Homo sapiens: one gene and its partner. The protein of the gene in region 2 interacts with the protein of the main gene of each other region in a biochemical or structural test. Each region holds a gene or a part of one and is shown on either strand. Other genes may lie near its edges.

Region 1 (3,751 bases), on a different chromosome or scaffold from region 2:
TCAGGTACTTCTGCTTACGTATCTTTGGTCAGAATTCTGTCACATGGCTACCCCTAGCTACAAGGTAAGGTAAGCTGGAATTTTTTTTTTTTTTTTTTTTTTTTTTTAGCAATTCTTTTCCCAGTCTTTCTAGAGGAAGGCAAGGCAGAAGGGGTTTGGGATGGACGCTGAATGAACCAAACTATAGTTTTTTTCACATTTGAGGGCAATGAAATCATAGTCTTGAAAACCAAGGACCAGGCGATAGCCTTTTCACCCTGTGACTAGACAGGTCCCTGAGGGCACGGCTGATGTGGCCAATCTTCTGTAAATGCAAAGGTGCTTATGGCCCTAGAGCTTCAGCTCTAAGACATGAAAGTGAAGGTTCCTCCAGAATCACACACGTGCATTATTCAGCGCAAAGATCTGTGGTTTGGTGATTCTTCTTCTCCTTTCATAAGGTGAGAGGCAGCAGTTGGGGTGAATTTCCCCAGGAATGGTGGGAGATGTGGGCCTAGATCCTCCCGCTGCTTGGGAAGAGTCGTACTTTTCAGTTGGAAGCCTGCTCCAGGAATGGCGGGCTCCACCCTCTGCATGTGACGTACAGGGGCTGGTAACTGATGGAGCCTGAACATATATCTGGGTGTGAGGGATAAGCTTCGAACGCCACTTAAGTGTAGGTGGGAGCCAAAAGGTCACCCTGCCAATACATGATTACATGTCCTGTTGAGGAGAAAATACACAGGGACTATTTTCACCCTTCTGGAAATTGTGATTAGAAAATGCAAGGAGAAGGCCAAGACACTAAACTGGAGCTGGTAGGGAGGAAGCCTCAGCCCTGCTCAGGGTGCCTGGACAGTCCCCACCAGGGCCCAGCTAGGAAATGCCAGCCTTGTCCTTGGTCTTCGTCCCTAATGGCTCCCGGCGGGTGAGGGAACTGCCTGGGGATTCCCCATCGTTGAAGCGCTCTGTGAGTGACCCCCTCCTAAGCCCCTCCAGTAGGGGATTTCCCAGAATGTTCCCACGCCCCCAGGAAGCCTCTTCCTTAGCCACCCCCAAGCTGCTTGCGGTTCATGGTAGAGGTAGGTGGCATCAAATGACCCCACAGGTGAGGGATTTGCCTGAGGTGGGAAAAGAGGGAAGATAAAATTGGAAAGCCACCGGGGCTGAGGAATTATCTCATAGGAGAGAACTGTCAAACAGTATAACGTTTAAACAGACTTTAAAGGCAAGAAAGGATGGAGGGCACAGACTCTGAAGCCAGAGTGCCTCAATTCAAGTACCGGTGCTGCAACTTCCAAGCTGCGTGATCTTGAGCCAGTGACTTAACTTCTCTGTTCCTCTGTTTTTCCTCTTCTGTAAAACGGAGATAATATTTTCTACCACACAAGTTTGTTGAAAATATCAAATGTAATGATAACCATAAAATACTTAAAAGAGTGATTGGCACACGGAAGTATTCAATAAATGTTAGTTATTGGCCAGGCATGGATGATTCACGCCTGAAATCCCAGAACTTTGGGAGGCTGAGGCAGGCGGATCACTTGCGGTCAGAAGTTCAAAACCAGCCTGGCCAACATGGTGAAACCCCGTCTCTACTAGAAATACAAAAAGTTAGCCAAGTGTATTGGCGGGCACCTGTAACCCCAGCTACCCAGAAGGCTGAGGTGGGGAGAATTGCTTGAACCAGGGAGGCAGAGGTTGCGGTGAGCTGAGATTGCACCACTGCACTCCCAGTCTGGGCAACAGAGAGAGACTCTGTCTCAAAAATTAAATAAACAAATAAATGATAGTTAAGTTAACCTAGGCTATTTTTTTAAAAAAATTTTGGTTTCTATCCACCTTTTTCGTATAAATTGAGCCAGGTTACACCTTAGACCTATTAGATCAGAATCAGGCATCAGGATTGCTAAAGCTCCCCAGGGGACCCCAGTGTGTGGATGAGGTTGAGAATCATTGTTTTGGTCCAGTCTTTCCATTTTAAAGTGAGGCAACTGGAGCTGAATAGGGAAATCGAGTCACTGAGGATCACCCAGCCAGGACCAGGGCCCAAGTTCCTATTCCCATTTACCGCTGATGGAGCTCACCGTGGTCATGAGTTCAGGACCTGGCTCTGTGTCTGGAGGAAGGTCTGGCCTCGAGTCAGCCCTTGTCCAGAATATCTGGCCAGGTGACCCCCTCTCCATGCAGCCCAGGAGGCAGATGGTCAGCTCTATGATTGGAAGAATGTGAGTGACTCAGGGATCTTGTGTTGTGTTGTGTTGTGTGTGGGTCACCAAAACCGAGACCCAGCTTTCTCCTGGGAGACAACAGGGTAGCCAAGGACTTATTTTTTTGTTTTGTTTTGTTTTGTTTTTTGAGACAGAGTCTTGCTGGGTTGCCCAGGCTGAACTACAATGGTAAAATCTTGGCTCACTGCAACTTCTGCCTCCCAGGTTCAAGTGATTCTCCTGCCTCAGCCTCCGGAGTTGCTGGGACTACAGGCATGCGCCACCACGCCCGGCTAATTTTTGTATTTTTTGTAGAGACAGGGCTTCACCATGCTGGCCAGGCTGGTCTTGAATTCCTGACCTCAAGTGATCTGCCCACCTCAGCCTCCCAAAGTGCTGGGATTACAGGCGTGAGCCACAGCACCTGGCCAACTTTCTAGTGTTCTCGGGAGACCTTTGCCCACTCAAGTCTCCAGTCTCTCGGGGGAAGCAGTCAGTGTGAGAGAAGGAACACAGGGCCCCGAGCCAAGCCCTGCTCTGCGCCTCCCTCGCGGGCAATGAGTCTTTGCATCAAACACTCAAAGTTTCTGAACTTCTGAGAAAACAAGTGCCTTGAGGTGAATCCTATAGCACAGCTGTCACCAGCCTGTGGTCATTTTGGAGGGTATGTGGCATAGGTTTGTCCCAGGGTCTCAGTTGTCCTCATCTGTAGAGTGGGGATAATAACAGCTGACCTTCCCTATCCCACACAGAGCGTTATTGTGAGGAGTCTGATGGACCTGGATGAATTCTGAATAGGAGAAAGATGGGTACATGGATGCCCAAATGCAGGCTCACCCCCACCCCTCTCAGTAGCAGAAGACATGCATATGGGAGAAGCTGCATTTCCTCCCAGCCTCACTGTGCTCTAGGTGTCCAGCCCTCATTGTTAGGGGATGTCACTGTTGTACCTCTGGATAAACAGCTGCTCTCATGCCACCTTTGCCAGTTGTCCCTTCAGCTGGGCGAGCCCTTTCCAGGGCATGACTGCCCCAAGGAGGGCCAGAGGGGACTGGGCAATAGCAGGGACATGGAGGGACGAGGCCCCAGATCAGCCACTTCCTCCTGCAAGGGAAGTCAAACCCTTTCTCTCATAAGTGTCAGGCTGGCTGCACGGTCCCTGGGCTGGCAGGGCAGGTTTCTTGGGGGCCCTAGCAGGAAGCACTCTTGCTTCCCAAGGTAAAGACAAGTTTCTTATCACTGGCGGTGGTTTTCTGGTTAGAGGCAGCAGGCAGCGGTTACAAACTTTGCCTAGAGCTCTGGGATCTGCAAGCCAGGGAGGGGGAGGCAGACGACAGAGCTAGAGTGAGCTCAGCAGAGCTTGCTTAGGGAGGAAGGACCCGCTGTCACTTCCCGAAAGCTGGGCCAGCCTCTAGGCGGGGAGAAGGTCAGAGTGGCCCTCCCTTCTGCCTCGGGGTTTGCCCAGGCTCTTCAGAGCACAGAATTTACAGTAAATGTTGTCACCAGTGGAAACTCTCAGAGGGGGCGAAGAAAAGGGCTAGAGGAAGGAGCCAGGACTCCCG
Region 2 (3,751 bases):
CACCCTCCGGCCACTCAACTGGCTGGACATCTAGGGGGAGACAGCAAGGGGTGGTCCCAGACACAGCTCCACTTCCCCATGCCCAGGTGCATGGCATGCTTTGCATGCCCCAGGATTCTGTCATACCATCACCTGGATGGTGGTGACCATGGGCAGCTCCAAGGGCTGGACCTGCACCCGCAGCCGGCACTCCTCCATGTTGATCGTGTGCTCCTTTTGTTGCAGCACCTGCTCAGCCACTGGGTGGTGGGAAACAGGGTCAGTACTGGGAACCCTCCCCACCTCCCTCCTGAGGCTCCCCATGAGCTTACCTTTGGGGTCATCAAAGGTGATCAGAGCAGAGCCCGCAAGCAGAGGGCAGTGGATCCGCAAATTGGAAACTAAAGACTTAGGCACTTCCGGGTCCTGCTGGGTGTGTCCTCGGAATACCAGGGGGATCTTGGGCACTGAAAATGGGACCTGGAAGTAGGGGAGGGGAGTAGGAGTGTTCCTCACTCCCACCTAGGAGGAAGGCATCTCCGATTCCATTCCATTGATGCTGAGTGCCGGAGATAAATACATTTACTGAAAGAAAAGCTGGATAAATGAGTGGATGAATGCAGGTCTGGTCCATACAGGGCAATTTACATACAACATCTTAATTTGTCCTGGGAGGTGGGTAGCTCTACTTTACAGATGTTCAAGTAACATAATGGAGGTCACACAGCAAGGAAGTAGCAGAGCCAGGAATAAAACCGAGAACTCCCCAGCTCTTTTTTGTGTTTCTTTGTTTTAAAGGGAGTCTTGCTCTGTCACCCAGCTGGAGTGTAGTGGCATGATCTTGGCTCACTGCAACCTCCACTTCCCAGGTTCAAGCAATTCGGACTCAGCCTCCCAAGTAGCTGGGATTACAGGCATGTGCCACCAAACCCAGCTAATTTTTGTATTTTTAGTAGAGACGGGGTTTCACCCTGTTGGCCAGGCTGGTCTCAAACTGACCTCAGGTGATCCACCAGCCTCGGCCTCCCAAAGTGCTGGGATTACAGGCGTGAGCCACTGCGCCCGGCCTAATTTTTGTATTTTTAGTAGAGATGGGATTTCACTGTGTTGGCCAGGCTGGTCTCAAACTCCTGACCTGAGGTGATCAGGCCCCCTTGGCCTACCAAAGTGCTGGGTTTACAGGTGTGAGCCACCGCACCCGGCCTCGCCAGCTCGTTTTTACCAAACAACACCAGATCTCCCACCTTACCTTGTCTTTGGGGGAGTCCCCGAGCTCCTTTCTCAGCTGCTGCAGGTCCCACAGCCTCATCTTGAGTCTGGCCTGCTCCTCCTGAAGGGCGTGGAGGGCCTGTTGGGGCAGAAGGAAACAACAAGACTTCTACCCGCCCTTCCAGAGAATCAACAAGCCCAGGGGAAGTGGGGCCTATTCTGGACGCTCCAAAAGCAGAGTTGATGCTAAGCTCAAGAACAACCCAACCCCTTTGTGCTGCCCTGGGCTGGTCTTGGCCCCCTCCACCCAGGGCTTGGCTGGCCTCATCTCAGCTGCTCTTGAAAGGGCAGGAGCCTTTGCAGCGTCCATGACTTGTTCGTGACCACAGATCTAGAGTTCAACAAACACTGATTAAGCTCCTGCTAGAAAGTGCTCGGCACTGACACAGGCAGTGGAAGATAAGGGTACGACCCTCAGGCCTGCCAAACAGTGCTCAAGAGTACATGATCACATGACTGACTGTGAAGGGCAGCCGGAATTTGGAAGAGGGACAATCCCAAAGGGGTTAACCCAATTAGGGACACCTCCAAGAGGAGGGGAGACTAGTTGCAAAATGTCATACAGTCATATTCTTAACTAACGTTTACTAAGTACTTACTATATGCCAGGCACTGTGCTAAGCCCGTCTGATGAATTATTTCATTCAATTCTTAGAACAACAGGGTATCTAAGATAGATATCCTGTGATCCTTATTTTATTGATTTATTTTTTTAATTTTTATTTATTTATTTATTTTTGAGACAGAGTCTTGCTCTGTCTCCCAGGCTGGGGTGCAGTGGCGCGATCTTGGCTCACTGCAGCCTCCACCTCCCAGGATCAAGTAATTCTCCTGCCTCAGCCTCCCAAGTAGCTGGGATTACAGGCACCCACCACCACACCTGGCTCATTTTTGTATTTTTAGTAGAAACAGGTTTTCACCATGTTGGCCAGGTTGGTCTCAAACTCCTGACCTCAGATGATCTGCCCGCCTCGGCCTCCTAAAGTGCTAGGATTACAGGTGTAAGCCACAATGCCTGGCCAATCCTTATTTTATAGATGAGGAAATTAAAGCTCAGAGAGGTTAAATGACTTGCCCAAAGTCATTTGGCCCTAGGCTGTCTGACTCCAGAGCCCACCCACTAACCTGTGCTTTACAGTGAAGAAATGAAGCCCAGAGTGGGGAGGTAGTTTACCCATCAATTCTAGCTTGTCCCTGGACTGTCACACTTTCCACTGTACACCAAGTAACCTTTTAGGCTGGGTGTGATCTGGAATGGGTCCAGAGAGAGAACTGACATCACAGGCAGGGAAGTGACACCAGGGATACCAATAAATGCACCTTTGTTTGTGGAATAGAGCAGAGTTCACCCTGTGGTTAGGAATCCTGATAAAGAAGTTCAGCTCAGAGAAGCATGAGATCTCTTGGAAAGATAGGACTCTGTTCTGACCATCTCTGTATTCCTTGTGTCCAGCAAGATCTCCGGCACAAAATATGTGTCCGGTAAAACTGTGTTGAATGAAGAAATGAAGTGAATGAATGACGGTAAAGGAGCACATTACAGAGGACACCAAAGAAATTCAGTGTGAGTTTGTTCTATTTTTAGCAGAAGAATACTAGAGCTTGACCAAATTATGCTGGTTTATGAATAGTGAAAAAGATCATTAGTTATTCATATTTCTGTAACTCAGAGAGTGCTAACACAGTGCCTTTAAGGGCCAGTTGGATGACATTAATGAGTTAATAGAGCCATGTAGGATAACAGAGAGTGGTGGGGACTCTGACGCACTGGGAAGAGCATGTCCTTTCTAAAGTAAACTGCTTCTAGCCATAACAAAGTTTCCCCCCACAGCAAATCTACCCATGTTTTTGTTTTGTTTTGTTTTTTGAGACAAAGTCTCAATGCCACCCAGGCTGGAGTGCAATTGCTCCATTATGGCTCACTGCAGCCTCGACCTCCTGGAATCAATCAATCCTCTCATCTCAGCCTCCTGAGTACAGGCGTGTGCCATCATGCCAGCTATTTTTTTTTTTTCTTCTTTTTGGGACGGAGTCTCACCCTGTCGCCCAGGCTGGAGTGCAGTGGCGCGATCTCTGCTCACTGCAAGCTTCGCCTCCCAGTTCACTTCATTCTCCTGCCTCAGCCTCCCGATTAGCTGGGACTACAGGTGCCCGCCACCACGCCTGGCTAATTTTTTTGTATTTTTAGTAGAGACGGGGTTTCACCGTGTTAGCCAGGATGGTCTCGATCTCCTGACTTCATGATCTGCCCGTCTTAGCCTCCCAAAGTGCTGGGATTACAGGTGTGAGACACCGCGCCCAGCCCTCTATTTTTTTTTCTTTTCTGAGACGGAGTCTCCCTCTGTTGCCTAGGCTGGAGTGCAGTGGCGCAATATCGGCTCGCTGCAAACTCCACCTCCCGGATTCAACAGATTCTCCTGCCTCAGCCTCCCAAGTAGCTGGGATTACAGGCACCTGCCACCACTCCTGGCTAATTTTTTTTATTTTTTATTTATTTATTTAT

What was found.
Region 1: the proteins of IFI35 (region 2) and BATF form a complex in vitro, tested with the Homo sapiens proteins (one study listed by BioGRID).

The regions. Positions count from the first base shown.
Region 1 is NC_000014.9:75,539,345-75,543,095, forward strand, and holds part of BATF (basic leucine zipper transcriptional factor ATF-like), read left to right. Parts: intron 1-3,751. UniProt on the Homo sapiens protein: AP-1 family transcription factor that controls the differentiation of lineage-specific cells in the immune system: specifically mediates the differentiation of T-helper 17 cells (Th17), follicular T-helper cells (TfH), CD8(+) dendritic cells and class-switch recombination (CSR) in B-cells.
Region 2 is NC_000017.11:43,009,755-43,013,505, reverse strand, and holds part of IFI35 (interferon-induced 35 kDa protein), read right to left. Parts: intron 2,748-3,751; exon of another isoform or gene 2,569-2,747; intron 1,328-2,568; coding exon 1,229-1,327; intron 460-1,228; coding exon 312-459; intron 240-311; coding exon 133-239; coding exon of another isoform or gene 127-132; intron 31-126; coding exon 1-30. UniProt on the Homo sapiens protein: Acts as a signaling pathway regulator involved in innate immune system response.